Regions from separate parts of the Homo sapiens genome. Here regions 1, 2 and 4 are each reported to be linked to region 3. Evidence: microRNA targets listed by miRTarBase, many of them from high-throughput screens and not tested one by one. Region 3 holds a microRNA gene; each other region holds the end of a gene's coding sequence.
The links. Region 3 holds the annotated microRNA hsa-miR-181b-5p (AACAUUCAUUGCUGUCGGUGGGU, at 5,039-5,061, opposite strand). A microRNA usually pairs through its seed, bases 2 to 8, with sites in the 3' UTR of a target mRNA and lowers its output. Matches are read on the target gene's strand: a 7mer-m8 pairs with bases 2 to 8, a 7mer-A1 pairs with bases 2 to 7 and ends in A, and an 8mer does both.

Region 1 (7,760 bases), not on the chromosome of region 3:
AGAGGAGGCGGGCAGCTGCTCCCTGCTCCTCTGTAAAGATGGCCCTGAAGGGCCAGGAGGCACTGAAAAAGCAACCATTGCTGGCGGAGGCCGGGCACTGATGCGTCTCTCTCCTGCAGACCGGAAGCCTCCCCTCGCTGCTGCCTTAGGTGAGGCTGAGCCGCCGGGCCCTGTGGATGCCACTGACCTCCCCAAAGTCCAGATTCCCCCTCCGGCCCACCCGGCCCCTGTGCACCAGCCACCGCCGCTGCCACACCGGCCCCCGCCCCCACCCCCCTCCAGCTACATGACCGGGATGTCCACCACCAGCTCCTACATGTCTGGAGAGGGCTACCAGAGCCTGCAGTCCATGATGAAGACCGAGGGACCCTCCTACGGTGCCCTGCCCCCCGCCTACGGCCCACCTGCACACCTGCCCTACCACCCCCATGTCTACCCGCCCAACCCGCCCCCGCCACCTGTGCCTCCTCCCCCAGCCTCCTTCCCCCCACCTGCCATCCCACCCCCTACTCCTGGCTACCCCCCACCCCCACCCACCTACAACCCCAACTTCCCACCCCCACCCCCACGCCTCCCGCCTACCCACGCAGTCCCCCCTCATCCTCCTCCAGGGTTGGGCCTGCCGCCAGCCAGCTACCCACCTCCTGCCGTCCCCCCTGGAGGACAGCCTCCTGTGCCCCCGCCCATTCCCCCACCCGGCATGCCTCCAGTTGGGGGGCTGGGGCGGGCAGCCTGGATGAGATAACGTGAGCCTTTTTTCCCTCTTTGTTTTTTTAACAAGATTTTCTAATCGACTTGCAGAGTAGTTGAAGTGGGTAAGCAGCAGGGTACCTTGTATAATGCACGACAGTTGCAGTATGGGAAGAATGGACCGGGCCCCTGGGATAAAATCAGAGTGGTCCTCACACCTAGAGGACGGGGACAACCAGCTTTCAGAGTAGCCTCATCAGTGCCCTTGCAGTCTGACTGTGTACACTTGGTTCAGCTAATGTCTGAGAGTCCTGCACTGGGTTACTTTATACTAGTGAGGACGTTAACCAGCCATATTGGCTCAATAAATAGCTTCGGTAAGGAGTTAATTTCCTTCTAGAAATCAGTGCCTATTTTTCCTGGAAACTCAATTTTAAATAGTCCAATTCCATCTGAAGCCAAGCTGTTGTCATTTTCATTCGGTGACATTCTCTCCCATGACACCCAGAAGGGGCAGAAGAACCACATTTTTCATTTATAGATGTTTGCATCCTTTGTATTAAAATTATTTTGAAGGGGTTGCCTCATTGGATGGCTTTTTTTTTTTCCTCCAGGGAGAAGGGGAGAAATGTACTTGGAAATTAATGTATGTTTACATCTCTTTGCAAATTCCTGTACATAGAGATATATTTTTTAAGTGTGAATGTAACAACATACTGTGAATTCCATCTTGGTTACAAATGAGACTCCTTCAGTCAGTTATCCAAATAAAAGCAGTTCTGAAACTATCCCTTTCTTTGTTATGGGTGGAAGGTGGGGCTCCAGGCCTTCGCAGTCTGTGGCTTATAAAATGTGCAGAGGCCCTCCTTCCAGACCCTGGGGACGCGGGAGAGGCCTGGCTGCAGCTCACAGCAGCCACAGCCAACCCCACTGCCTCCCAAGGCACTCTGGGTGGATCCGCACAGCTGCCTGCCAAGCCAGCCTGCCCCCATCCTGTGCCTGCCTTGGTTTCCTTTGGAGGACCTGGTTGAGTTCCAAACCAGTTTGAAACTTTGAAGCCTTGCTGCGTAGAACGCACACAGGAACCCGGGGGCTTGGATTTGAAACCCTTTCCACTTCTGGCCTGTGATGAGACAGAGGCAGCTGGAGGAGCAGCGGCCTCACTGTCCACCTTGAGGGGCCACGGCTCTGTCTGTGGAAGGGGCCCCGACTGAGCCCCCATCTGCGGTGCTTGAGGGGCCTTGGCCCTGTCTCTGCCTGCTGACCCTGCCACCCACGACAGAAACAAGCACTGAGCACCCAGCCAGGAGGCTCACAAAGAGGCCTTTATTTATCTAGCTCAAAGTAGACACTATCACAATCTTGTTTGTTACTCCTTTTACTAAAATAGTTCAAATCAATGTTTTTACCACACTATCAAAAAGTTCTATTTCTTCTTGTCTCCCCACGTCAGAGTGGTTGAATAGAAGGTAGAAACAGGCCGGGAGTCCACGGGCTCCCAGCTCTAAACGGCGCCAGGGCAGGAAGGGGTGGCTCCAGGTCTCACTGTGGCACCTTCTACAGAAAATAGACGTAGCTGCCGGGCCCGGGGACAGAAACCAGACGTTCCAGTCCATCTCCAAAAAGCAGCACAAATACTTTGCCCCACAGTATGAAAAATATACACCTCTACCGCTCTGCAGTCATGCATTTAGTTTTAAGAAAAAAAAAAAATCAGTAGTATGTATCTTGTTTCCTCAAGTTTCAAGAAAAAAAAAATGAAAGGTCACTTTTTTCTCTTTAAACACTGATGTGTAGCTAGTAACTTGGATAAAAAGGTGCCACCCTACAAAATGTGCTCAGCATGTTCTGAGGCCAGGATGGGCTTGGCCACCTGGGCTGGGGCGAAAGGAGACCTCCATCTGTCACAGTGGAAACTGAAGCCGAGTGCCAGTGCCGCGTCCGGCTTCAAGATCAAGAGTCAGAGCCTTTGAAATGGAAAGGGGGCATCTGAAAGGGCACCCCCACTGGGGGCTTTCAGAGCTAAGGCTCCAGAAGGAAGGGGGTCGCCCTGCTAGTGACGGAGCTGGGAGTCACCCTGAGCTACAGCATGCCCAGATTTCCCCTGTGGGAAGCCCCATCTGACCTTCTACAGCCCACGGCTCTGCAACTGCCACCTGTACTCAGGTACATGGCGTCGCTGCTGCTGGCTTTTAAAATCAGCTATTAGTTTGAGATGTGACAGTCGCCGACAGGGTTCTGTCCTAGAAAGCCATCCCAGTGCCGTGTTGGCTCAGGGGTCACCAGCTTTGTGCTGCCTCCGTAACAGCAGGAGGGTTCTCAAAGCAATGTTCCACTGATCCCTGGATGCCACTGCAGCATTAAAGACAGGGTCAGTCCCCTTGAGGGGAAAGGTGGCTTCAAGGCTGTTCTCTGGGCCTGTTTGCAGGAGATCCGCAGGTACCAGGAGCCCGTACTTATTGCTTATTTCAGTGGTGGCCACGCCAACCTGACCCAAACATGATGCACACGGGCTCCCAGACTTGGCTGCCACTCAAAATGGACCCACAGCCCTTGGGCTACTCTGCGGTTCTTTGGACTGCAAGACCCAGAGGGGCCTCTGCTCAGCTGCCCACTCGGGCAAGAATCACTGGGTACCATGAGCAGCAGGTGTTCACCCAACTTCACGTGTACACCCCTAGTGACCGGGAGCGCACCACCTGACCGGGCGACACTCCTTCCCAAAGAGCCTCCTGGCAACACCCACGGCAGGAGCGCCACACCATCCCATCACCAGCACCCACTTACCCCCCTGGGGCTAAGATGGGGGGCGTGAGCCTTTCCCCTGAGAGCAAACGGGCAGCAAGAACTGCTCAGAATAGAGCCGCCAGCTAGGGAGAGGGACAGGGCGGCCATCTCCCTCCTCTTGCCTGCATCCCCAGCCCTGGGCCTGCATGAGACCTGCTGGGTAGGAAGACAGCCTCTCTGGGCTCTTCAGGTGGGGCTGAGCAGCCCCTGGAAGAGCACAGGAGTCTGACGAGGACCTGGTGAGGTCCTGGACCCAAGAGCTAGGGCTGCTTACAGTGGCATGAGCGGATGTGGGGAAGCGGCCTGTCCCCGTGCTGCAGCTGTGGGATCAAAATCCCTGTCATGTGCCACACATCACCCCCTCTAGGCCTTACTTTCCTCACACACACAGTTTTCTATTGCACTTTACAGTTTATACATGGTCATTTACACTGAAGATCTCACTTGATGCCAGAATCCTGTGAGGAGGGCCTTATGCTGCCCATTTTACTACTGAGGACACGGGCTCAGAGTGGGGAGGCAACTCTCCACCCGCAGCGACTGCAAGGCAGCAGAACTCAGCTCCACCCGGCCCGCCCTCAGCCGTCGGCTGTTGGCTCACGCCCCCTCAGTGAGGACCCCTGCCCTGTGGCGCTGGATGACCTGGAGCCATAAGCATGGCCGAAAAGGAACCTCAGAGACCTGTTTCCACCAAGAGCCCAGACAGGCTGAGTGAACTGCTAAAGGTCACACCACAAACTAAAGGCAGAACCTGGCCAGACACGCTCCTTCCCAAAAAGAACAGAACTCTCATCTGCAGCCTACACAGCTCTGTCCACAGGGACCCAAGATGCAGCCAGGCCCTGGGGGAGGTCACAGCCAACCAGAGCCCCAGCTGTGGCCCAGTGCTGCCCATCAGGAAAATCACATGTGGCTCAGCCCAGAAACTCTCCCCAGGCCCTTCCTGTTACTGGCCTGTCATGTAAACCACGAAAAGGGACGTGCCTCAGGCATGGGGCAGGAGGAGCCCAAGAAGGGCATAGCCTGGACAGGGTGGCAGGGGGACATTGCAGAGACTGGGGGGGAGGGGGATGACCTCCAAAAGCAAGGAGCAGCGGGCATCGGGTGGCTGAGCACAGATCCCCAGGTGTGAGGGCACCCTGACCTCCAAGGCTGAGGGTCACAGGAAGGGCCCAGGGCAGCCTCCAGCCAGCCACAGATGTGGTGAGTGGCCTTGTCCACATGCCGGGGACCCAGTGCTTGGGGGGCCTGGGGCCAGGCCACGGCATTTGGGCAAGAAGTGGTGCCACCTGCGTCAAGACCCAGGTAGTGGTGGTCTCTGTCCAGTGTGGGTGGCAGCCGGGGAGTAGAGGGTTTGATGAGTGGCCCCTCCATCCCAGGCAGGACAGAGGAGCCTGGACAGTTCCCAGGCTGGATCTCAGAAGCAGCCTGCAGCCTCTTGCTCATGGAGCCCAGGGCCCAGAGGGGGAATGAGGCGTCCGGGCCGCTCTGCTGCAGGAACAGTCGCAGCGTCTCGTCTTCCCAGGTTGCTGGTGTATGAGGCGGGAGATGGCGGCTTGGGCCAGTGCATCGGACCCATGGCAGCTGGGCCAGGGCGGGCAGCGTCCTATGTACAGTTCACCACAGAGGAAGAAGACAGGGGCTGGGCTGGAGGTCCTGCCCGTGTCTGGGGCCTGAAACTCCCCCTGGGGACCCCCAGCAGGGCCAGTCCACGTCCACAGAAGAGTGGCCCTACAAAGGCCCCTTGAACTGGTTCCCAGACAGGTGCTGCCGTATGGAGGGCTTGGAGCTGGCTGCATCTCCCAGCTTTCTCCAGACCACCTGTGGAGAGGAGAGAGATGTGAGTGGTGGGACTCACCCGCGTCCACCTGCCGCCTATGCACATCCGCCGCCTCATCACGGCAGAATCACCCACGTCCTCAGAGCCATGGGGCCAGGAGGGACACGGAGGCCACTGCAGGCCCAGAGACACCCACACCAGGTCTTTGCATGCCGCGCTAACTATCGGGCCTGAGCAGGTCACTGCTGGGGTGTGGCTCAGCCTTGCAGCTGTCCAGTGGGGTCCACAGGCCCCACTAGGTGATGCGGGGGAGGGGCTGCACAGTTCAGAGCCTCTCGCCCCCCCTTTAAGTCCTGGGTTCAGACCCTATGAAACTCCTTCCCCGATGGCTCCTGCAAGCACCCCCAAGGAGACCGCCGATGGTGCTCAGCTGGGTCGAGCACGGAGCTCTCCTGGGCAGCCCCAGCCTGGTGGGCTGGAGGGTTCCACCTGGACCTCCTGCTCTGAGCACCATCTGCCCAGCCAGCAGCCACAGGGGGCACCAGCAAGCTGAGAGGCCCGGGGGCCAGCACCCAGGGAACACCTGGGGTGAACAAACCAGTCCCGGGGGGGTGGGGGGCTCAAGCTCTATCCAGAACCCCAGGCACGGCACTCCTGGGGAGGGCGGATCTGCAGACACCAGGGGCCCTCTGGGAAGGGCAGGGGGCAGCGAGATGACAACGGGCCAGGGCTCCTAGCACCTCTGAGGCCTCCCCCCAGCTATCCAAGGTCACCCAGCCTTCGCTGAGCATTCGAGAAATGGAGTCCCACATGGGGAAGGGTATGGCCATGCTGGGTGGCCCTGGTCGCACTCCCAGTGCCAAGCCTCTGCCCCCCACCCCTGGAAGCCTCACGTTGCACATCTCGCGAACGATGGCCTTCTCCTTCTCACTCAGGTCCTCCTCACAGCTGTCCTGGAGCTGCCGGTCCAGATTCTCGTGTACCTCCAGGACCTGAAGGGAACGGGTCTCGGGGTCAGGGGCAGAGGCCACCGGCAGACCTCGGGCAAGTCACCTGGCCCCTGATCCTCAGCCTCCCCTGCTGCGAACCAAAGCTGAGGACCCTGAGCCGCTGGGCCCCTGGGGACAAGCGTGGAAAAAACTGAGGGGCAGGTTGTCATCTCACCCTGCTGACACTGGATGCCCTACAAGGGAAGCAGCTCATGGCTGGGCCACCCGGGAGGAAGTAGACAGGCTGGGCAAGGAAGACCCTCAGACAGGTGGACTCACTGCAACCCAGGGCCCGCTGGAGATGAGTGGGCACTCGCCACGTGGAGGGGGTGTGAGTAGGCGTGGCCGTGCATGCATGTGGGATGTCATGGGGCACGTACGTAGGAGGAAGGGGGGCATGGGAGTGGGGACTGTGCTCAGGTGTGCACAGCCTGGAGGAACCGGAGCCCATCGGACTCACCAGTCTGCACCTGCAGAGGCTGGGCCTGGCAGACCTGAGGTTAGTTCTAGCCCCACTCCTGCCCCTCTCTCTCTGGCCTTAGTTGGGTGCCTGCCCTCCCCGACCCCAGGCCTCAGTCTTGTTAGGTGCAGTAGCTCAGGGATGGCAGACAGGTGACACACTTATGACTGCCACCTCTGAGTTCAACCTCACAGTGCTCCAGGCAGCCATGGTCACCCAGCCACCCACACACAGATGAAACCTCCCACCCCTGCCACTTGGATACCCCTAGGTGCAAAGGTCCCACAGTCTCACAGTGCACCCAGCATCTGAGGACTTCTGAGGGAGCGGGTAGTGGCCCTCACCTTCATGGCATGCACGACAGCCTCGGGCTTCTGTCCTGCAGGGCTGTAGCCAGCAGAGGGGGGCGAGGGCAGCTCAGGTGCGGGGCAGGCCGGGCCCTGGGGAAGGCAATCACACATCTCAGCTCACCCTGGCTGGCTCCCACAGGAATGACCGGTGGCTCAGACAAGGCCCCCATTCTGAGGGGCCAGGGCCCAGGCAGGAGGAAAAGGGGACCGGGGTGAGGCAGAGGAGGCAGGTGTGAGGATGGAGACCCAAGGAGCCCACAGCCAGTCTGGCCAGTCCCGCCCACCAGGTCTTCTGCAGATGAAATGGTCCCTGATAGCACAGAGGCAAGAGGGGCAGTCCAGGGCCCACCCACACCTCTCAGGCTCCTCTACAACACCCCACAGATAAGACCTAGCGTCTGTTTTGCAAGGAAAGTAAGTTCAGCCTAGGGAGGGCAAGAGACCCAGATCACAGCAAGACCAGGAAGGTCTGGACTTAACCCTGGCACCTGACTCCAAACTCCCTTCCCCTGCCCACCCTGGAGCCACCGGTGGGCGAGGCCGGCTTCGCCCTGAGCACTCCCTGGGGCCTGCCTCCCAGCTGCCACCTCCCAGCCCTGCGGGATGAATTGGCTGCCAGGTGCCCAGCTCCCACATCAGGCCTTGGGGAGGGGACCCAGCCTCTGTCAGAAGCTGCGTGTCTACCCAGGGGCAGGCAGTCCCAC
Region 2 (7,760 bases), not on the chromosome of region 3:
AGGTCAGGAGTTTGAGATCAGCCTGGCCAATATGGTGAAACTCCATCTCTACTAAAAATACAAAAATTAGCCAGGCATGGTGGCGCACCCCTGTTGTCCCAGCTACTCGGGAGGCTGAGGCAGGAGAATCACTTGAACCTGGGAGGTGGAGGTTGCAGTGAGCCGAGATGGCACCACTGCACTCCAGCCTGGGCAACAGAGCAAGACTCTGCCTCCAAAAATAAAAATTAAAATGATTTCTTAAGTAAATTTCAAATATAGAATGTATATGCTAGTGATAACAAAATTAACACTGTTTATGCAAGTCTGCAATAGGTAGATGTGAAGTTGATAGGTGCAATAAGTATAGGCAAACACATAGGAACATTTGACCTGTTTTTTTGTTGATTTTAAAACATTGAATAATTGGGAAGCTTTTAAATCTCTTAATTTGAGCAACTAGATGGCTGTATTTATCTCCTTATATTAAAAAAACTATTATAATTATCTTTCCCACATATCAAACTCCACTGGTTTTTTTCCCATTTTTCTTTCATACTTCAGAAAGACGAGAATCCAGGACTTGAATCGTATCTTCCCACTTTCTGAGGACTACTCTGGATCAGGCTTCGGCTCCGGCTCCGGCTCTGGATCAGGATCTGGGAGTGGCTTCCTAACGGAAATGGAACAGGATTACCAACTAGTAGACGAAAGTGATGCTTTCCATGACAACCTTAGGTCTCTTGACAGGAATCTGCCCTCAGACAGCCAGGACTTGGGTCAACATGGATTAGAAGAGGATTTTATGTTATAAAAGAGGATTTTCCCACCTTGACACCAGGCAATGTAGTTAGCATATTTTATGTACCATGGTTATATGATTAATCTTGGGACAAAGAATTTTATAGAAATTTTTAAACATCTGAAAAAGAAGCTTAAGTTTTATCATCCTTTTTTTTCTCATGAATTCTTAAAGGATTATGCTTTAATGCTGTTATCTATTTTATTGTTCTTGAAAATACCTGCATTTTTTGGTATCATGTTCAACCAACATCATTATGAAATTAATTAGATTCCCATGGCCATAAAATGGCTTTAAAGAATATATATATATTTTTAAAGTAGCTTGAGAAGCAAATTGGCAGGTAATATTTCATACCTAAATTAAGACTCTGACTTGGATTGTGAATTATAATGATATGCCCCTTTTCTTATAAAAACAAAAAAAAAAATAATGAAACACAGTGAATTTGTAGAGTGGGGGTATTTGACATATTTTACAGGGTGGAGTGTACTATATACTATTACCTTTGAATGTGTTTGCAGAGCTAGTGGATGTGTTTGTCTACAAGTATGATTGCTGTTACATAACACCCCAAATTAACTCCCAAATTAAAACACAGTTGTGCTGTCAATACCTCATACTGCTTTACCTTTTTTTCCTGGATATCTGTGTATTTTCAAATGTTACTATATATTAAAGCAGAAATATAACCAAAGGTTAAGCTGTCTCGGATCTGTTGTTCTAAACCCAGGAAACAGTTATTTTTGGCCAGACGTTTCTCCAGAAGTCTTATCAACAAAACAACTTTAAACGTATTCTACAGTAAACACAAGTTTTGTAACCAGAATCAAATCATACTAACTAGCAAATGAAGAAAGCAATGATGCCTTAGCAAGAGGGTTATATATCTCAAAGCACTTCCTCACCTGAAAGATAGTTCCATCTCTGTTCCCCTTAGTTCTGAAAAGCCCCCTTACATCACCATCCTGGATTCTGTTCTGTACTGTCCAGATCCCAGCTCCAGAACTGAGTACTTACTCAAATTAATCTCCTCAGGAGAGAGCCACCTTGCCCAAGGTCATGCTGCTTTGCAGGGCAGCCTGCATCCAGTGACTGGCTGATGTGGGCATATCAAGGCCTGAACTCAGAATAGTCATACAGATTCAAAACTCCCCACAGGATCAGCTCCAGTTTTGCTGGGACTACTTTGTAGCTCAGTTTCTTCTTTACTCAATTTTACTTCCTTCCATTCCGCTCATAGGTTTCTATCCTGAGAGTGCTCCCTTAGAAATTTTCTGCTAGTTTCCATCTCAGAATTTGCTTCTAGGAGAACACAACTTGTGACAGGTTGTGCCAGGAGGGATAAGAAATGGATGCTAAGATGGGATTTTGGAGCTAGATTGCCTGCTGTCTGGCTGGCAATGAGGACTCCATCCTTGGCCATAGATGAGCACAGGCACAAGATAGCAGTGCAATTGTTAAAACTTTCACTGGTGATGAACCAAGATGGTATACCAGTGGAAGGGAGTGCACTAGGGTGTGATGTACTAGGCATCTGAGAAATGTTGGCAAGTAGTAATAATAAAGACAATGGTATTGGTTGGCTATTGCTGGACTTAATTAATGCTTTTGAAAAAGACAATGAAAGGCTAAGGACAATTAATTAAAAGCTAAATGTGAAAACCATTGGGCCTCCTTGGCAGCATATTAAGAAACTCTCTTCTGTAATAGAAGGAATTAAAAAGCTGAGGACCAGGCCCAGGACTTATGAGAATAGCAGATGGCTGGGTGTGGTGGCTCACGCCTGCAATCCCAACGCTTTGGGGGGCTGAGGCAGGTGGATCACCTGAGGTCAGGAGTTTGAGATCAGCCTGGCCAACATGGCGAAACACTGTCTCTACTAAAAATACAAAAATTAGCCAGGTGTGGTGACAGGCATCTATAATCCCAGCTACTCCGGAGGCTGAAGCAGGAGAATTGCTTGAACCTAGGAGGTTCAAACCTGGGAGGTTGCAGTGAGCTGAGATCATGTCACTGCAATCCAGCCTGGGTGACAGAGGGAGACTCTATCTCAAAAAAAAAAAAAAAATAGCAGAGTTCCAAGAATATTAAATTGTCAGCTTAGCCCAGTCTGTTATGCAAGCTCAGAGTCCTTACTGGGGAAAAATAGGACCCTGAGAGATGGAAACATCTGGGCTGATACATTCAAGTTTTAAATCCTCAGATTCCTTTGAACCTCTGAATCTACAGAAGAGTCCCATGCTTTAAGGACCGATGCTGGCCAGGTGTGGTGGCTCATGCTTGTAATCCCAGTACTTTGGGAGGCTGAGGCGGGCAGATCACTTGAGGTCAGGAGTTCAAGACCAGCCTGGCCAACACAGTGAAACCCTGTCTCTACTAAAAATACAAAAATTAGCTGGTTGTGGTGGCGAGCACCTGTAATCCTACTCGGCAGGCTGAGGTATGAGAATCACTTGAACCTGGGAGGTGGAGTTTGCAATGAGCCGAGATCACGCCACTGCACTCCAGCCTGGGTGACAGAGCGAGACTCTGTCTCAAAAAAAAAAAAAAAAAAAAAAAACAAAACAAAAAACAGCAATCAAAAAACAAAAAAACTAGTGCTTTCCTGTTGAAGACAATCAAGAGGCCTCTACCCTTAAAGACAACACTCACTCTCCTTCAAGATCTGTCCCCACCTCCCTTCCTAGACAGCAGATAAATATCAAAGTTAAGTCAGTATAAACCAACAGGGGAGTTTTGGGCTTGCTCAGGAGGAAAGGTAAAATACTCTGAAAGTTCTGTAGAACTTAGCTAACGTGGACCTTAAAAGCTAAGAGGGTGTCTGTAAGACTTAACTCTGGAAGTCCTTGATCCAGGGACGGAGATAGAACACAAACTTGGATAAGGGAGTGTTTAGCAATGTGAGTGTACCCTCCTGGGATACAGGTTTTAATGCCCTGGCAAGAACCCTGGGAGAAGGTGTTGAGACTCTGCTAAAATGACTCTTAGACACTTGGAGAAAGTGACAGCCCACACTTAAGTGAAGTGGAAATACTAGAATTGTCATGCCAGGCAGTGGAAAAAGGGGTCAATAGGATTAAGGAAATGCACATGATAGAATGAATGGACTATATAAGCCTTGCAAACCCACCAGATGACTGTCTTGCAGGAAGGCCAAAGCAATAAAGAATAGCCTGGTGAGAGCAATCAGCACCTCTGAGCCATCTGCAGTGGCTTTCCTCTGAAAGGCAGGGCTGATGTTGTTACATAACTGGGCTTATTAATAGCAGTGGGAATAAAGGGTACCAAAATAATAGAGACCAGGTGGTAGTGCTCAACCATCAGAAGCCAAGAGGTGCAGTTACCTTTTTTTTTTTTTTTTTGGAAATGGAGTCTCACTCTGTTGCCCAGGCTGGAGTGCAATGGCGAGATCTCAGCTCACTGCAACCTCCGCCTCCTGGGTTCAAGCAATTCTCCTGCCTCAGCCTCCTGAGTAGCTGGGACTACAGGCACACGCTGCCACACCTGGCTAATTTTTTTTTTTTTTTTTTTGTATTTTAGTAGAGATCACCGTGTTGCCCAGGCTGGTCTCGAACTCCCGAGCTCAGGCAATTTGCCTGCCTTGGACTCCCAAAGTGCTAGGATTACAGGCATGAGCCACCGCGTCCAGCCAAGAAGCCAAGAGGTGCAGTTATCTTAATGAGCAGCAAGGTCAGAGATGTATCCAGGGGAGCCTCATGGGCACTGAGATAGGAGATGGCATCTCTAGAGGCAATGTAGTTGCACAGCCAGCAAAAGTATTGCTCAATCTATTGTATTAAGCAGGGTTTGCCAGAGAGACAGAACCACTAGGACATATACTTAGATATATGAGAGGAGGTTTATTAGGGCAATTGGCTCATGTGATGGTGGAGGCCATCTGCAAGCTGGAGAACCAAGGAAGCTGGTAGCATAGCTCAGTCCAAGTCCAAAGGCCTTGGACCAGGGATCCAGGGATATGGCAGATCTTCCGCACCTGGTCTACCAACTCACACTCTAATCTCCTGACGAAATAACTTCACAGATACACCCAGAAATAATGCTTTACCTCCTATCTAGGTATCCCTTAATCCAGTGAAGTTGACATCTAAAATTAACCACCACATTATTCAACCAGAAAGATCAAGATGGTCAGGAGGCATAGGGCAATTGCCTCAATAAAAAAACACTATGGTGGCTGGGCGTGGTGGCTCATGCCTATAGTCCCAGCACTTTGGGAGGCCAAGATGGGCGGATCACGAGATCAGGAGTTGGAGACCAGCCTGACCAACATGGTGAAACCCCATGTTTACTAAAAATACAAAAATTAGCCGGGTATGGTGGTACGCGCCGGGTGTGGTGGCTCACACCTGTAATCTCAGCACTTTGGGAGACTGAGGCAGGTGGATTACAAGGTCAGGAGTTCAAGACCAGCCTGGCCAAGATGGTGAAACCCCGTCTCTACTAAAAATACACAAATTAGCTGGGCGTGGCGGCAGGGTCCTGTAATCCCAGCTACTCAGGACGCTGAGGCAAGAGAATCGCTTGAACCCGGGGGACGGAGGTTGCAGTGAGCCGAGATCGAGCCACTGCACTCCAGCCTGGGCGACAGAGTGAGACTCTGTCTCAAAAAAACAAAAACAAAAACAAAACAAAACAAAAAACAAAGAACGCAGGAATGCTGGTCCCCAATGCACCTCCATTTAATTCACCAGTCTGGGCCTCACAAAAAGCAAATGGAGAGTGCTAGTGGACTATTACAAATTCAACCGAGTACAGAGGGTCCCCAACTTACAATGATTTGACTTAATGATTCTTTGACTTTATGATAGTGTGAAAGTGACACACATTCAGTAGAAACTAAATTTCAATTTTTGAATTTTGACATTTTCCCAGGTTAGTGATATGTGATGTGATGCTCTCTGGCGGTGTTGGGCAGCACTAGCGAGCATGGTTTTTCGCTTTCAGTATTCAATACATTACATGAGACATTAAAACTCTTTATTACAAAATAGGCTTTCTATTAGATTATTTTCCCCAACTGTAAGCTAATGTAAGTGTTCTGAGCATACTTAAAGTAGGCTAGGCTAAATAAACTATGATGTTTGATACGTTAGGTGTATTTAATGTGTTTTTGACTTAAGATATTTTTGGCTGGGTGTGGTGGCTCACGCCTGTAATCTCAGCACTTTGGGAGGCCGAGGTAGGCGGATCACCTGAGGTCAGGAGTTCGAGACCAGCCTGGCCAATATGAAACCTTGTCTCTACTAAAAATAGAAAAACTAGCTGGGTGCGGTGGTGCACACCTGTAATCCCAGCTACTCCGGAGGCTGAGATAGGAGAATTGCTTGAACCTGGGAGGCGGAGGTTGCAGTGAGCGAAGACTGCGCCACTGCACTCTAGCCTGGGAGACAGAGTGAGACTCAGACTCAAAAATAAATAAATAAATAAATAAATAAATATTTTCAATTTATGATGGGTTTATTGGGATGTAACCCCACTGTAAGTTGAGGTGCATCTGTAGTAGCTCTATTGAAGCAGCATCCCCAGGTGGAACACTTTTGCTAGAGCAGAGTTACATAGCTTTAGATACCTAATAGTCATTTATTTGACAAATGCTTTCTTTTATATCCCTATCAAAAAAAGAGGATAAGGCTGGGCACAGTGGCTCATGCCTATAATCCCAGCACTTTAGGAGGCTGAGGTGGGAGAATCACTTGAACCCAGGAGTTCGAGACCAGCCTGGGAAATATAGCGAGACCTCATCTCTCCATTTTTTAAAAGAGGATCAGAGGCCAGGCGCAGTGGCTCATGCCTGTAATCCTAGCATTGGGAGGCCAAGGTGGATGGATGGCTTGAGCTCAAGAGTTCAAGACCAACCTGGGCAACATGGTGAAACTCTGTCTCTACAAAAAATACAAAAATTAGCCAGTTGTAGTGGCATGCGCCTGTAGTCCCAGCTACTCAGGCAGATGAGGTGGAAGGTTGGCTTGAGCCTGGGAGGTAGAGGTTGCAGTGACCTGAGATTGCGCCACTGCACTCCAGCCTGGGCAACAGAGCCAGACCCTGTCAAAAAAAAAAAGAAAAGAAAAGAAAAAAGAGGATCAGAAAGAGTTTACGTACTCTTGGAACAGACGGCAGTATATTTACAGTCTATTCCCAGGACTATTTTAACTCTCCCACTCTTTGTCATAGTACCATCTAAAGAGACCTGAACTGGCTGGACATCTCACAGAAAATCACAGTGGTCACTGACCAGACCCCCATGTCATTGCCACTGATGCACCAGCATTTCTTCCTGGGCTCACATCTATGACTGTATGAGGGCTTCCTAATGACCAACTGCCAGGATAGGAATAAACTCCAGCTTGGTTCACACATGGATTGGTCTGGTATATGGGAGCAAGCCAAAAGTGGATGTCAGCTACACTACAATGCCATTCAGGAGTGGACTTGAAAAGCAGCTTTGAGGGGAAATCCTCCCAGTGAGCAGGAGCATTGGGTGGTGCTCCTGGCCATCCACTCTGTGTAGAGAGAGAAGTAGCCTGAGGTTGGAAGATACTCATTTGCATGGACTGTGGTGACTGTTTTGCCCAGTTGATAAGGGGTCTAAAACAGAAAGATTGGAAGATTGGGCACGAAGCAGCTCAGGGTAAAGGCATGTGGATGGACCAATGAGAGAAGACAAAGTGTGAAGATGTACGTATCAAATGTGAATGCCCACCAGAAAACATCCATCACAGAAGAGGCACTAAACAACCAGGTAGACAAAATGACTTGGACAGATGTCAGTCAGCCTCTGTCATGGGCCACCCTAAAACTGGCACAATGAGCTTAGGAAGGAGTGGCCACAGTGGCAGTGATGGAGGCCACACATGGGCTCCCGCTGACCAAGATTGATCCAGCTACTGATGTTGCCAAATGTCCAGTATGCTAGCAACAGAGCTCATTGCTGAGCCACTGATATGGCACTATCCCT
Region 3 (7,760 bases):
ATTATATATAGGCTGAAACTGCAATGTGTGGGACAGATAGATAGCTGAAGGTATCCTGTGCTTGGTTCAAGGAGAAGATTACTTCCTAAGTTATAAATATAATTGTGCTAGAAATTACAAGAAAATTCGTTTGATAAAAAAAGTTAAAAATTCATTTGATTAAAAAAAACATTTATTATCTACTCCATGCCAGGCCCCTTGACAGGTTATGAGATCACAAAGTCCAGTTGGATCTTGTTGAGGTACAGCCTGAGAGGAGAACATGAATAGGCTGGAATTTCCTTCATTGTGTTCGTTCTCTGAGGATGACTTATCTGTCCTCCAAAGTGACCACCTCCCACGGATCGAGAGCCTGTTACTTTCTACTATCCCTGCAGCTGTGCTTTCCACAGGACAGTTCGCCTTTCCTTCCTTTCCTCTGTGGATTCTTCCATCTGATTTTCAGCCGAATGTAGGTAGATTCTGCATCTAAAAGAAATCTTTGTTTTTCCTTTTTCTTTTTTTTTAATACATGATTTAAAAGGCGAAAGATTTATATGATCTGAAGAGAAACCAGAGTAGAAAGACATGATTTAAAATTAACTTTTTCTTAATTGTTGAAATAGTTTATGCTTATTGGTAAATACTTGGAAGATCTATAAGAGTATAAATAATAAACATAAAAATTACCTATAATTCTACAACTTTGAGATCACAGTTGTTAACGTCTTTGCTTCTAGTCTGTTTGAACTTCCTGTCTGCTTTTTGTCTCCTATCAGCCAGTCATGCTTGGCAGCGCTTACAAAACACACACACAACACATGCACATACACTAAGATCTTAATATTTTGTGTGTCAGATCTTGTGTGAAATTCTTTACATGTATTCTTAATCTTCAAGCAGCCCTGTGAAGCAAATACTATTGTTGTATCTCCTATTTACAGATGACACAGATTTAAAGGTTAAGTAATTTGCTCAAGTTCATATAGTTGCTAAGTAACAGCTGAGATTTTTACCCTCATTTAGCCCAAGCTCTTCATCACTACCTTTCCAGAAATCTATTTCCACAATGACTAGAACGCCAAAATTGTTCTTTCCAAAACTATTAGTAATCTGTTTTTTTTTTTTTTAAATCCTACCTTCTTTTCTGGCCTTGTCTCATGACTTTTTCACCATCTTTTTATGTGCTTTAGTCACAATTTCTGTTTTGTAAAAACACTGCTTCTTTGGCCTACACAACATACCATCCATTCTCTATGCTTGGAATGCTTACTCTATTTCACCAAGGTAGTTACACATACCCTTGAAGTCTTTACTTATACATCACTTCCTCAAGGAAGTTCCCTGACCCTTCTTACCACCAAGACTGGATTGGTCCCTCCTATTATTTGCTCTCATAGTACCTTACTTTTATCTTCTGCAGAGCTCTTCACACTTGCAATTAGCTATTTGTTCGTTAGAATTAGTTCTGCCTTTTACGTTATATACTTTTGTTTCTTCCATGTCTCCTGGCTCCTGTTGCAGTCCAGGTATACACTAGGTGTCCAATAAGTATTTGTTACCTTTTTCTTTCTGCACTTAGATCATTCTTTCTCAGATCCATGCTTATGAATCATAAATGTGCATTCCTTGTTCTGATATCTGTTCCAAAAGTGGAATCCTCTTTCTTCCATTGTGAAATTGCCCATTTCTTTCTTAGTACACTCCAGGCTCCTAATCTAGTCAGGAAAGTTTGGCATCATTCTTGACTCTTTGCTTTCTTTTCTGTTTGAGCCAGTTCTTTGGAAGGTGGTTCTGATATATCGATATGGAAAGATGGCCACAATATTTTAAGTGAAGAAAGATTTCAGGCCGGGTGCGGTGGCTCACGCCTATAATCCCAACACTTTGGGAGGCTGAGGCGGGTGGATCACTTGAGGTCAGGAGTTTGAGACCAGCCTGGGCCACATGGCAAAATCCTGTCTCTACTAAAAATACAAAAAATTATCCAGGCATGGTGGTACGTGCCTGTGGTCCCAGCTACTTGGGAGGCTGAGGTGGGCGGATCACTTGAGGTCAGGAATTCGAGACAGCTTGGCCAACATGTCAAAACCACATCTCTACTAGAAATACAAAAATTAGCCAGGCGTGGTGGTGAGTGCCTGTTGTTCCAGCTACTTTGGAGGCTGAGGTGAGAGGATCAGTTGAACCCAGGAGGCAGAGGTTGCAGTGAGCCGAGATCACACCACTGCACTCCAGCCTGGGTGACAGAGCGAGACTCCATCTCAAAAAAAAAAAAAAAAAAAAGCTAGAGAACATTATGTATAATTTGTGATGTTATTTTCTCTAAGTATAAATACATGCATTTTAAGTATCTTGAAATATCTGTGAGGCTATACACCGAACAGGATGATGGAAGGGGGTCAGCCAGTAGGCTTTTATTTTGAAAAACAAAAGCCAAAGTATGCCTTTTTGAGATAACCTTTCCTTTCATTCCATTCCTGTTGACTCAGTTCTACCCCTGCTAACTTGTGCAAGAAAGTTCTCTTTTTTCTCTTTTCTTCCCCTCACTTCATCTGCTTAGTGACTCTTCCCAGTCTTGCTTTCATTGTCTCCTTGCTGAGTTTAGCATTTAAAACGGCTCTCTGTTGGACTAATTGACTTTGCGCCTTGCTCACAAGTCCTTCTGTAATATGTCCTTTTACCTTTTCAGTGCCATTCCTTATGACTCCCTAATACAGTCTCTGGACTATTCTCTTCCTGTCCCCTATACATGCCATGTAATTTTTCTGTTACAGGTATTTATTTTGAGGCCTATCTGCAGAAAACACCCTTTAACTTACATAATTGTCTCCCTTCTTGTAGTACTTAGTTTTATCCAAGAGAAAACTTGGATTTGGTTTAATGAAATATATAATTGTTTCATTGGCATATTTAAAGACTATGTAATAGTCTGTAAATAAATAGCATGCTTGTTCAAGTGTACATTTTTCAAAGTACGTGTCAGACATTCTTTTCTAATGTTTTCAGAAATTTTGGAAATAATTGGTTAAAAATAAATGCCTAGAATGCACAGCATCTTGAAAAACAAGACTGCGTGGAGTACCTTCTGTGTGTCTACCAGTCTCACAAAAAACTCTTCTATAAAGACCCCCTCGGGCCGGGCGCGGTGACTCATGCCTATAATCCCAGCAATTTGGGCGGCCGAGGCGGGCGGATCACTTGAGGTCAGGAGTCTGAGACCAGCCTGGCCAACATGGCTCTACTAAAAACACATTTCTTCTAAAAACACAAAAATTGACTGGGTGTGGTGGCGGGCCAGCTACTTGAGAGGCTGAGGCACGAGAATCACTTGAACCCAGGAAGCAGAGGTTGCAGTGAGCCGAGATCGCATCACTGTACTCCAGCCTGGGAAACAGAGCAAGACTGTCTCAAAAAAACAAACAAACGAAAGAAAAACACACACAAAAAAACCTTTTGGTAATTTCTTTGGGTAGGTTTTAGTTTTTTAGATAGCGTAAATCCAAATCCATTCATTTCCATAAAACATCAGACACAATTTGATGTATATTTGGCCACCAAACATGGTGCAAAATTTTATGTAGTCTGGAGATACTTAAAAGCAGCACAAATGTGACTCTACCTGTCTGCACTCAGCAGAATAGTGGCGATTTCAGGTGGTGACACAAAAGGTTGGGCAATAGTTGAAAAGTGGATGACATGAAATGTGGTGGTGGGATGGGGGCAGGAAGCCGATGTTAAGCTAGTGAACTTTATTTACTTTGCTTCCAGCTTCCAGTGACCCAAAATCACCTCGTCTAGAGTAGGGCTCAGGAATTTGCCATTTTAAAAGCAACTCTAGATGATTCTGGTGTACAAGAAGTTTGGGAAACACTGGCTTGAACCTGATATTTTCTCTGAACTCTCATAGTTTTCTTTAGATTTTTCTTTTGGCTTTGATTTCTCTTTCTGGTTCTTGTCTCATTACCCCATCACTTCTCCTTCCTAATTTGACAGGAAAGCCTTGTCAAATTAAGGCTTGCTTAATTGTCAAGGCTAATTTGACAAGACTCTTCTCTTACTGTCTTATTTGACTTTTGCTATGAGAATCTGCTTCTTCTTAGACTTAAGTGTATGATAAATTATTCATGACCAAGGGCCTTGTTTTTCTTTCTTTAACATGGGATTTAGTGGCTTATCTCATGTTACAGGATTTAGAGAGTTGATACTACATTTAAATTTTTTGTTAAGAAAAATGTACATCTTCTATCTCACTTAGGTGTTTTTCCTGTTTGAGGGACATGGTTTGCAAAGGTTAGAATGAATGAGCCTCATAGTTTTTGTCAAAAGAGAATATTGATGTACATCTGAATAATAACCAGAACATTCATATTAAGTCATACTATATAGCCATTTAAAAGAATGACGAGTACATAAAAGACTGTTGTGGAAGTCTATGATATATAGCTGAATAACAAAATAGATTATAGAACAATAGGTAAAAATGAGCTTATTTTTGTCTAAGCCACTCTCCCCCCAAAACATGCAAAATTACAGCTATTTATCTGTGTATGTATGGATAAAGGTCTTCAAGGATATAAAATAAATTCTAGTTATGATATTTATTATCTTAATAAGTTTATTATAATTATACATGTTTTCCTCCGAGGAAATGGATTGCAGATGATGATTGAAGGGATTTTCAATTTTTACTTTGTATATTTTTGTATTTGAATTTCTAAATAATAAGCATATGATTCTGTTTAGAAATTCTGAATGTACTGATTTTTAAAATGTGATGTGATATCCAGATATGTATTTAATTCTTCCTATAAAATATCATTTCCTTAAATCTAGACTATTGAAAAAGGAGAAAAGTACTAGGAATTTAGAGAACTTACTCCATGTTAGAACCAAGGAGAACAAGAAAAGCTTTAGCTAGTGTTTTGGAAATAGTAGCAGCTCCCACTCACAGCAGTAGCTGCTGCACTCAGGCGACTCTCTGCACATGCTTTTGCTTCCTTTGGGTTGTTTGGTCCGCAGTTTGCATTCATTGATCAGTGAGTTGATTCAGACTCAAACCCACCGACAGCAATGAATGTTGAGTGCAGCCATCAGTGTTTTCAGTTGGTGGGGTTGCCTTTGCCCTCCCTGGCTGACTCCTGGCTCTTCTTTTCCATCTCAGTTCTTTGAAGTCTGTGTGTCTGGCTTCTCCCTTAGTAACCAGCCATCTGCATGATTGAGGGCCCACACAGGTGTCCATAACATTGACATTGGAGCTGGGAGGTTATTGCAGATGAGGAAGCTGTGGTTCAGAGAAGGAAGGAGTGCTTGGAGAACCTCACAGGTAGCACTGCGCCACACAGGCAGTGCTTGCATATTAGTACCTGTAAACCACAGCTGAGGGACCTGCTTTTCCTCTTTGTTTTGAACTGAGAAGTATGAGTGCTTTTTTGAGGTAAATTAGCAGATTATGTTGGAGTTTAATAATAACAGCTTACATATATTGAGCATTTGCTGTGGGCTAGTAATGGTACAAAGCACCTTATATATTATCTCATTGAGTCTCAAAACTCCATGATAGGTACTCTTAGCCTCTGTTTTATATGTGAGAAAACTGAGACACTTGCTTAGGGGGTCAAATAACTAGTTAAGGGCTTGAGCCAAGATTCATCCCAGATCTGACTGACTCCAGGGCTAAGTTTTTGCTTGAATTTAGCAAACATTTAAATAAGCATATGTGGGGATATGTGGGCACTAGTAAGGCAATAGCTCATGCTCTAACTGGGATATCAAAAATTAACCATATTAACTATAATTCAAAGTGAAATGTGATAAGAACTGTCACAATTGGATAATTTTGTGCTATTTTTGCTTATTAAATCCTCCCCTTGCCCCTAATTAAAAATTTTGAGAGGATGTGGGAGAAATGGGAGTAATTATTTAACTGGATTTTATTCCAAAACAAAATACGTATTTTTAATAAATTTTTACTTGCTACGTCCTGTTTCTCACCAGAATGGTGCATATCTAGGAGACATGTAGGTACATTAGATATCATCATGGACTGCTCCTTACCTTGTTGAAATGAAACACTTTTTTTGTAAAAACAAACAAATAATAATAAAACACACAACAGAAAGCAAGGAACAGTGAGCAGTAGGAATAAAATTCACTGGACCACATTTGGGGGATTGCAGGACCATTTCTGGTGAACTCATGTGACATGTGAAGGTACAGCTTGCTCTTTTGCTTCAGGAAATGTAGTGTCGTCTGTAAGGACCCCAAGGTACAGTCAACGGTCAGTGGTTTTTTCAAATCCCAAACTCACCGACAGCGTTGAATGTTCCTTGGAGTCCTCTGAAGGCTGGCCTGATAGCCCTTCTTCATTCTCCCATCCACATCCCAAGAACCAGTGAGCAGTGAGACCACCGCTGATGGATGCTCTTACATTCCTCTCTGGGTTTCAAGTCGAGAGTATTTAAATTATAAAATCAATTTGTGTGCAGCAGAGAACTAATGAACTGTGGGATAGACTGTGCAGTAATTTGTACAAGCAGACTCAAATGAATGTCTGAGAAAATGTCTTTGAATGGTATTATTTTGTGATTCTAAAAATGTAAAATACCTGATTTTGCAGTAGTATTTTAATTGTTAACAAGGGTAAGAGATTAACATATATTGGGGATCTGCTATATACTAGGATTTGTATATTTTATCTCATTAAATTCTCAACAACCCACATTTTCCTGATGAAAAAACTTGAAGTGATTTGCCTAAAGTTACATTGCCAGGAGCCAAGGTTATAAGCCAGAATTTGAATACTGGACTTCATGTTTCCAGTGCTCACTCATCATACTGCTTCTGTTGTCTACTACAGAACTTACTGTTGATATCTAGGAGTAGACCCATCACTGCAGAGCCAAAGTCAAACATGTAAATTTCTTCTACTTGTTTGCCTATAATAATAGCAGGTAGGTCTATAGGTGAGGTCATAGGGGAAGATGAAAAACCTCGACCTCCATGATTGATGATCTCCTTTGCTGAGATCCTGCATTACTAAGTTACCACAGAGGTGTTAGTGATAGTCCACAAGCTATTTTCCATATTGAAAAAGCAAAAAATAAACCAAAAACCCACCACCTAATGTAAAGCTTGCATTTCTTCTTAGTTGAGAACACAGAGTGTAACTAAAATGTCAGATGTCATTTGTTCTGGCTGAAACGATACCAGTACATTATAGGACATAGTGGTTATTTTTGATTCTGTTGAATGTCTGTGATGAAAAATTTGAAAAATGAATTAATAATATGAATCTTCAGAATATGTGATTTACAATGGGACAGATCTAGGAATACTTAATAGGAAAAGGGCTTACAGAACTGCCTGCTGAATTGAAGTTAATCTCTAAATGGGGATAGTTATTACTATTTGCTTTAGGTTTAAATACTAAAGGCTGACTGGTCTCAAATTCATTTTTAAAGCAGCCAAATGGTACACGTTAAAAGAAAAAATATCAACCACTGAGATTTAGGTTTGAATGTAAACTGTTTACCTTCTATATCAGTTTAATTCACCCTCTGTCAAAACTCTGCATTAGCCAGCTTTGTTGAGTTTTCAGTGTTATGACAGTAAATTGTATACACACACAAAAAATCAGGCAACTGTAACTGTGTAATATGTTTAAAACTTTTTAATGGGTTTATTTTAAAAAGTCTTCCTCTTGGTCCAATAATATAAAGCGATGTCAAGCCTTATACTATTTGGATAAATATTTAGACTTTAAAAAAAATACTGATTTT
Region 4 (7,760 bases), not on the chromosome of region 3:
GTTTCATTAAACCAGTGTCTTAGACAGCGACCCTCAGGGATGCTGGGAGTGGTCCTGTACTGTGCAGAGTCCTGGGTTGGTTGGGTTCTCCTGAAGAGTCAGGTCATCTAGGGATCATAGCAGTGACAATGAAGTCTCAATATAAAGGAAAGACTTGATTGTTCTCTGAGTTGTGAGTCTTCTCCTTTGTCCTGACAGAGTTTGGATGTTTCACTCTCTCTCTTGCTTCCTGTCTCCTTATATTTGTCATGTTTCAGAAATTCCCAGAATAATTTTCACCCATGATTAGAAATAGGTTGGATCATTCTTTCTGTACCCATTCTGAAGGCCAGGATAATAGGTTGAAGTTCTTTATATTTTGGAAAATGGATTTTGTGGTAAGGTAGGAACTAACGGGTGTGTGCATATAAAGGTTAATGCTGTTGTATTTGGATGCTGATCTGTGCTGTTTTCATGACCTCTCTCCCACACTATTTGAATCAGTCTGTTCAGAACTGTGTGTTTCACCTGCAGTGCTCTGTCCCAGTCCCATGCCCATTCCCATCACTTCACTGTGATGGAAATAGAGTTTATGTTCAACAGTGGGGCATGACCTCTGCAATTTGCTTGGGAAAGTCTTCCAAGCAAGATGGACATGATGAATACAAATAAGATCTACTCAAAGTACTTCAAACAAAAAATAAATAATTCATTGGCTCATGTATCTTGGCCACCCAGGGAAGGTCTGACATTGTTAGTTAGATCCAGAGTTTCAAATGTCATCACCATGGATGTGTCTTTTTCTCTCTCTCATTTCCCCTCCCCATATCTTGTCTTTTATTTATTATAGGTTTGTCTCATTCCCTGGCAGGCTCTCTCCCTGTGATAGGAAAGAGAGTCCCCAGCAGCCCCAGGGTGACATAGTTGTTATAGTTCATTATGGAATAGAAGAGAGAAGAGCATTCTCAATAACCCGGCAAAGTTCCCAGGGATGACTCTGATATGTCTATGTCTCAGGTCACATTTCCATCTATGAACCAATCATATTCAGAGGTGGAATGCTAATTGGCCAGGCCTGGGTCATATATACAAGTCTAGGGAAGAAATGAGCTTCATCCCTGTCCAATTGACATGGACTGATTAGGGGTATTAATGGAAGAGGTGTGCCACCACAAAAGAATGTACCCTGGGCAGATCAAAGAACATATTCTGTATGTCAGGCTTGGCCACAAAAGAATGACACAAGTAATATGCTGTAGATCAGAACCTCTCTGCTAATATTGCCTTTTTAGCATGGTTAAGATAGCTAAGATCTAGTACTGTCACTCCAGTATGTCCCAATTCTACCTACGTTTATTGAAGGGTCAACAGTTCTGATCTCAGCATTGGGTAAAGGGTGGGACATTCAGATTTACGGTCCTTGATAAAAACAATTTACAACGTTCCGTTGTGTAATAAATGTAAGTGTACATATGCCTGGGACATCAGCTGGAAAAGGGACAGACTATCAGAGAGTTGCACTGTTGCGGTATGGGCCAAATCCAACATAATACCCGCTGTACCTCTAGAGAACTAAAACCTTAATTTCTCAGATCTTTTCTGCACTAATGGTCTTTACATACAGCCTACATTTTAACTAACTCTTGCATGGGCTTGTTTCACAGCAGGAAACTATATTCATCATATCCTTATTATGATAGAGAATGACAACATTCAAAAGGGTGTGGTGCTTCTGAAAATATACACAATAAATGGCATGATTTGACCTCTGTCAAATTCTTCTTTCCTGCTTTCCTCATATGTGGGCTTGAGTGGGTGTATTTAGCTCCTTTAAAGGAAACTCTTTCACAGGCAGGGCCACACTCTTACTCGTTTTGATCTCATGAGGTTACATCTGCCAGTGGCGTTCAGGGCCAGTTAGATAAAGTTCATCTTGTTTGGATTGGAGAGACTTTTTTTTTTTTTTTTTTTGAGACAGGGTCTTGCTCTGTAACCTAGGCTCAAGTGCAGTGCAGTGGTGCAGTCATGGCTCACCGCAGCCTTGGTCTCCTGGGCTCAAGTGATCTTTCTACTTCAGCCTCCTCAATAGCTGGGACTACAGGCACACACCACCACCCCCAGGTAATTAAAAAATTTTTTTTTGTAGAGACAGGGTCTCACTATGTTGCCCAGTCTGGGAGACCACATTCTTTAACATGAATATTTTGTAAATAGTCCAAGAAGATCTAGAGGAAAGCTGAATTCCTTCATCTGATTTTTGCCACTGGGCTGCCTCCCATTGTCTGGCTAAGTCTTCATGGGAGGCCTTTAAGAAAAGCTGTGACAAATACCTTTGTTTCCCACTGCCTAGGTTACATAAGTAGTTGGCTTTTCCAGCCTAGACTCTTATATTGTTGCTTGTAAGAGGGCCCTTCTTTGCAGATTTCTTTTTTTTTTCATCTATGCTTTCAAATAGGCAGATGCTAGCCTGAGATCATCTCTTTATTGAGGTAGTTTGCCCAAAAACAGCAAGGAACAGCCAATACCTGCCAACTTTCTAGGTTTTTCCAACCAATTCTCTTACAGAAAATCTATAAATATCTTAGAGGTATGTTTCTTAGTTTCCCAACATATAATGGGAAAATTCATCATTTATATTATTACTTTTAACTGAAGTATGTTGTTATCAGAGAACTTGGTCTGTGTCATATTAATCCTTTGCCATTTGAGAAGCATACAGTTTTAAAGTTTATATCTCCAAAAGGATATTTTGTAAAAATTTAACCCCTTTGACTCTTAGTCTTCTCATTTGTGAAAGGTAAATAATAAAGAATTTCTGTTCCTAGTAAGAGTAACTTGTGGCAAAACAATACCATGACATACAAAAATTGAAAAACTGGGCAAAACTTAAACAATCTGTTTAAGGCACCGAGAGCCATTAAGGCAGTGAGACCAACAAAAAGGGAAGCACCAAGGAGGAAGCTTAACTTTTTGGTAAAGTTGATTCCATTTGGGATGTTTGCCAATTTGTTAGCAGAGGTTGTGAGTCACAGAGGTTTAAGTGTCTGAGACACCATTTACTAAACTGTTAAAAGAAGAAATAGAAAATTTGAATAGTATGATACCTATTGGAGAAATTACGTTTGTAATAACAACAACGATGGTAAGGAAAGCCTTCCCACAAAGAAAACTCAGGCCCATTTAGTTTCACTGGTGAATTCTACAGGCATTTAAGAAAGAAACAATGCCATTCTTTTGTTTTCTTTTGTTTTTCGAGACAGGGTCTCACTCTGTCACCCAGGCTGGAGTGCAGTGGCGTGATCACGGCTCACTGCAGCTTCAACCTCCTGGGCTCAAGCGATCCTCCCACTCAGTCTCCTGAGTAGCTGATATTCACTGTTAGTCCTCCAACTTAATGTTTTTTTCTTTTCCTTTTTAAAAACTTTTTTTTTATATAGAAATGGAGATTCACTATGATATTATAGGTGCATCAAGTATTTTTATTTTTTATTTTTTGTAAAGACCAGGCTGGTCTTGAACTCCTGGGCTCAAATAATCCTCTCACCTCAGCCTCGCAAAGCGTTGGGATTACAGGTGTGTGCCACCGCGTCTGGCCAAAACAGTACCAGTCTTATGCAAACCCTTCCAAAGAAGATAAAAGAAAGGACACTTTCAGCTCTTTTTATGAGGATAGCTTGATAGCAAAACTTAACAAAGACATATAGGAAAATTGTAGACCAGTATCTTTTATGACTATAGGTACAAAATCCTTTACTAAATACTAGCACCCCAAATCCACCAATATATAAAAAGATAACACATTAATCAAGTTATGTTTATTCTAAGAACAATAAGTTGGTTAATATGAGACTATCAACCAATATAATGTACTACATCAACAGAATAAAGAATAAAATAATGACTATCTCAATAGACGTAAGAAAAGTTTTTGATAAAATTCAGTAACAATTCATGATAAAACTCTTCAGTAAACTAAAAATAGAAAGAAGCTTCCTTAATGTGATAAAGTTTATCTGTATAAAATCTATAGCCACTGTGATATTTAATTATCCCGAGATTAAGAATGAGATAACAGTACTTGCTATTACCAATTGTATTCAACTTTGTACCGAAGAGCGTAGCTAGTACAAAAAGGCAAGAAAAGGCAATGAAAATCATAAAATTGGCCAAACGTGACAGCTGTTACAATGGCAGGTTACAGGTTAGCCAAGCGGGAGGCAGACATGTGTTTCAGGGGAGGGGAAGGCTATTTCCACCATATGCAAGTGGATGCTGCATTGGACACTGATGGGCAGAACCATCATGCTGGAAAATAATTTTTTATTTTCATGACAGCCTACCATTGAATTTACAATTCTGATATTAATGAAATATCTCTATAAAGGGTTGAAGTGTCTTCCTGCAACAATTGCCAAGGAACAAAATTGTCAATTTATTAATGAAACATGACGTGTGTTGAACAAGACAAGCTGGGTCAAGCATTTGAGGATGCTTTTGAGGCACTGAGGCAACATTCAACTGGAGATCTTTAGTACTCGCCAGATTACAAAAATTACCTGGCTTTAATCAATTATTGTCCTCACGTCAAAGGAAATTCCAGCTGCTATGGAGTGTTGCCTACAGAGGAACCTCTCTGTAATTGGAGAACGGTAATCAACAGTGCTGCGGACTTCTATTTTGAAGGAAACATTCATCAGTCTCTGCAGAACATAACTGAAAACCAGCTGGTACAACCCACTATTCTCCAGCAAAAGTGGGGAAAAGGCAGGAAGAAGCTTAGACTGTTTGAATACCTTCACGAATCCCTGTGTAATCCGGAGATGGCACCTTGTATTCAGTGGGTAGATAAAATCAAAGGCATCTTTCCGTTTGTATCAAAAAACAAAGGAAAACTTGCCGAGCTTTGGCGGAAAAGAAAAGGCCGTTGGAAGACCATGACTTATCAGAAAATGGCCAGGGCACTGAGAAATTATGGAAGAAGTGAGGAAATTACCAAAATCCGGAGGAAGCTGACTTACCAGTTCAGTTAGGCCACTCTCCAAAGACTCTCTCCATCTTATTTCTTGGGGAAAGAGATCTTTCCCCAAGTGTGTTAAACCTGATCAGGAATATCTCAGTTTAAATAACTGGAATGCAAATTATAATTATACATATGCCAATTACCATGAGCTAAATCACCATGATTGCTAAATATACTCTCATATTTCATGGTTTCCTGGCATTGGAAGTCCCTACAGTTTTAAGGATTTCTCACTCTCTGTCTCTTTTTTCCTTCCTCTGAAGGAGTTTAGGATTTTTCTCTTAAAGCAAACACTAAAGAGAAAAAAAACCAAGTAACTTTATTTGCTGCTTTTATCAAAGAGCATGTAATCTATACTAACTCAGTGGGAAATTCTGCCAATGAGCAGCTTTTTTTTTAATACTCTATGAAGATTCAATGAAAAACTTTATTGTTTCAAATGATTAAGTCCATTTGAAACTATAGACTAAATGTCCTTGCTCTGCTCTTACTATTCTCTCTAATTTTTTTATTTTATTATTTTTTAAAAGAGGTCTCAGCCAAGACAATTTTAAATTTTTATGGATTTAGGAGTACAAGTGCAGTTTTGTTGCATGGATACATTGCGTAGTGGTAAAGCATATTGCATAGCATCCTCATCATCAGAATAGTGAACATTGTACCCAATAGGTAGGATTTCATCCCTCATCCCCCACCCATCTGCCCACCTTTTGGAGCCTCCGGTGTCTATTACTCCACTCTGTATGTCCATTGCTAAGCCCCCAACTATACTCATTTTATTTTATTTTAAAACTTGTTTTCTTTTTCTGCATACTTCAATGGATGCAAACTCTTTTCATTTTTTCTTTTCCTTTCACAGACAGTGACTTCATTTTTTTTTTTTTTTTTTGCTGCTAACTCCCAAGCACAACACAGTGACTTATGTTTTTAATTTTTTTAAGAGGCAAAGCCTACCTCTGAAGCTCCTTTTTTTTTTCTTTTCCTACTTCAATAAGCTGGTCTACATTCTTACTCTTCTCTATGCAACCACTTTCTTCTAGATTAACAGTGCTAGTACAGATGATTTGATTTATACATTGATTTCAGCATTTTCTTTTCATGTACTCAGGTGAGGAAAATCACTCTTTTATATCCAATGACTTTACAAAAAATCATTTACAAAGAAGTGACTGCATATGATAAAATATTTGTGCCAAAATAAATTCATGGCTTTTAAAATGTCATAGAAATGTCTATTCAGGTATCTTTTTTTTTTTTTTTCACATTCACTGTAATCCTTGTTTGATGTCAATGTCACGTCACCACCCCAAGCGGGGGGCACAAGCACGAGGAAAGGAAACCTTCCCCGTGAGGGGAGGGGTGGGGAGGCACGCTTCCCTCCCCCAGCGCAGCTGCTGGCTCTGTCTTTGCCGGAACACTCCAGCCCCAATGCTCTTCTCTTTGCTGCTGAGTGAAGTCCTCCCCATGGCCCACGGCCTCCCTGCCTCAGCCCTTTGGATCTGCTCCTCAGACTTTACCCCTTAGTTATGCCCTGATTCTAGGACCCAGCCTGGACTCCACATCCCTTGGTCCCAGGCTGGCCCCAGGTCTTCCACGTAGTCCCTCTCCACCAAGTCCCCAAGTCACCCTTGACTCTGAGAGGTATCCCTCTCCCACACCAGTTCTTTTCCAGTCACTTCTCCTCCCATGTTTGTCTTCAGTCTTTGCCTTTATTTATCCCTGTCCCTCCCAACCCCCGGGCTCCCAAGTTCTATCTCACTCCTCCACCCTCCCTGTCCTCTCACAGCTGAGGTTCTGGGCTGTAATGATGGCAATGCTGCCCAGCACAACCCCTGCCGCCACGATGTCAGAAGGTGCCACAGTCTCATGGAGCATATAATACTGCAGTATAAGGGCCACAACCACCTCGGAATGTAGGACAGCGCACACCAGGGCAGGGTGGGCCTTGGTGACCGCATAGCCCACACATGTGAAGGAGACCAAGGCGAGGATCCCCACTGCCCCCACACAACTCCAACTCAGGAGGTCACTGGGCAACACGGGGGCCTGCAGCACAAAGAGGCCTGGCACAGAGCCCAGCAGCCCCACCAAGCCAGATAGGAAGGCCACTGTTGGGAGGCAGGGGGGAAAGTGCAGAGAACGATAGACCAGAAGCCTCAGGGACAGCGCCAGGCCTCCCAGGAAAGCCTCCACATAGCCCAGGGCGGTGTAGACACCCGTGGTCCCCTCCTGTAGTGTCCAGAGTCCAGGTCCCACAATGATGATTAGTCCTAGGATGCAGCCCAACAGTCCACACCAGTCGTAGCCACTGAGACCCTGGCTCTCAAGGCAGAGAGTGAGGACGGCGGAGCAGACGGTGGAAGAACCTTTGCGAACAGTGGCAGCGTTGCCAGCGGGCACCACCTGAACCGCACTGTAGGCACATCCAATGCTGAGGATGTTGAGCAGGGCACAGAAGAAGGCCCGGCTTCGGATGTCAGGAGTTCCCAGAAGGGGGTCGCCACGCAGTTTAAGTAGCAGGGCAATAGGGAGGTGGAAGAGGCATCGCCAGATGAGCAGCTCCAGCGAGGGCAGGTTGGAAGCCTGGTAAGCCATACGAGAAAGGGGGCCCACGAAGCCAGCAGGCAGGCCCCCACCCAGCAGGGCCACCAGCAGGCCACTGGTGGCATCAGAGGGCTGGCAGCGCTGGTACCAGCGGAGGCTGGGTGGAGCGGAGGGCGGCGATGGGTGTGTGGAGTCAGGCTGGTTGAAATAGGGGTGA

Region 1: the mRNA of CCNK is a reported target of hsa-miR-181b-5p. Seed matches in the 3' UTR shown: 8mer at 1,391-1,398.
Region 2: miRTarBase lists SRGN as a target of hsa-miR-181b-5p. Seed matches in the 3' UTR shown: 7mer-m8 at 1,291-1,297.
Region 4: the mRNA of SLC35G3 is a reported target of hsa-miR-181b-5p. Seed matches in the 3' UTR shown: 7mer-m8 at 6,261-6,267 and 7mer-A1 at 6,001-6,007.

Annotation. Positions count from the first base shown.
Region 1 is chr14:99,510,038-99,517,797 of GRCh38, forward strand. It overlaps CCNK (cyclin K), which reads left to right. Exons shown (of 11, transcript NM_001099402.2): 11 at 120-2,403. The coding sequence ends at 745. It overlaps CCDC85C (coiled-coil domain containing 85C), which reads right to left. Exons shown (of 6, transcript NM_001144995.2): 4 at 7,051-7,146; 5 at 6,151-6,249; 6 at 1-5,298. The coding sequence ends at 5,209. Among named protein-coding and RNA genes, the nearest start is that of CCNK, 33 kb to the left of the region's middle. RefSeq lists enhancers at 1,267-1,768, 1,769-2,268, 2,269-3,269.
Region 2 is chr10:69,103,328-69,111,087 of GRCh38, forward strand. SRGN (serglycin) reads left to right here. Exons shown (of 3, transcript NM_002727.4): 3 at 544-1,478. The coding sequence ends at 793. Among named protein-coding and RNA genes, the nearest start is that of VPS26A, 17 kb to the right of the region's middle.
Region 3 is chr9:124,691,026-124,698,785 of GRCh38, reverse strand. It overlaps MIR181B2 (microRNA 181b-2), which reads right to left and starts at 5,076; the gene lies at 4,988-5,076. All of the region lies in intron 2 of NR6A1 (nuclear receptor subfamily 6 group A member 1), which reads left to right. MIR181A2HG (MIR181A2 host gene) reads right to left here. Exons shown (of 2, transcript NR_038975.1): 2 at 158-468. It overlaps MIR181A2 (microRNA 181a-2), which reads right to left and starts at 6,344; the gene lies at 6,235-6,344. RefSeq lists an enhancer at 3,219-3,764.
Region 4 is chr17:35,186,537-35,194,296 of GRCh38, forward strand. It overlaps SLC35G3 (solute carrier family 35 member G3), which reads right to left. Exons shown (of 1, transcript NM_152462.2): 1 at 5,984-7,760. The coding sequence ends at 6,755. It overlaps UNC45B (unc-45 myosin chaperone B), which reads left to right. Exons shown (of 20, transcript NM_001267052.2): 20 at 1-2,807. The coding sequence ends at 23. It also overlaps the pseudogene SPICP2. Among named protein-coding and RNA genes, the nearest start is that of SLC35G3, 4.0 kb to the right of the region's middle.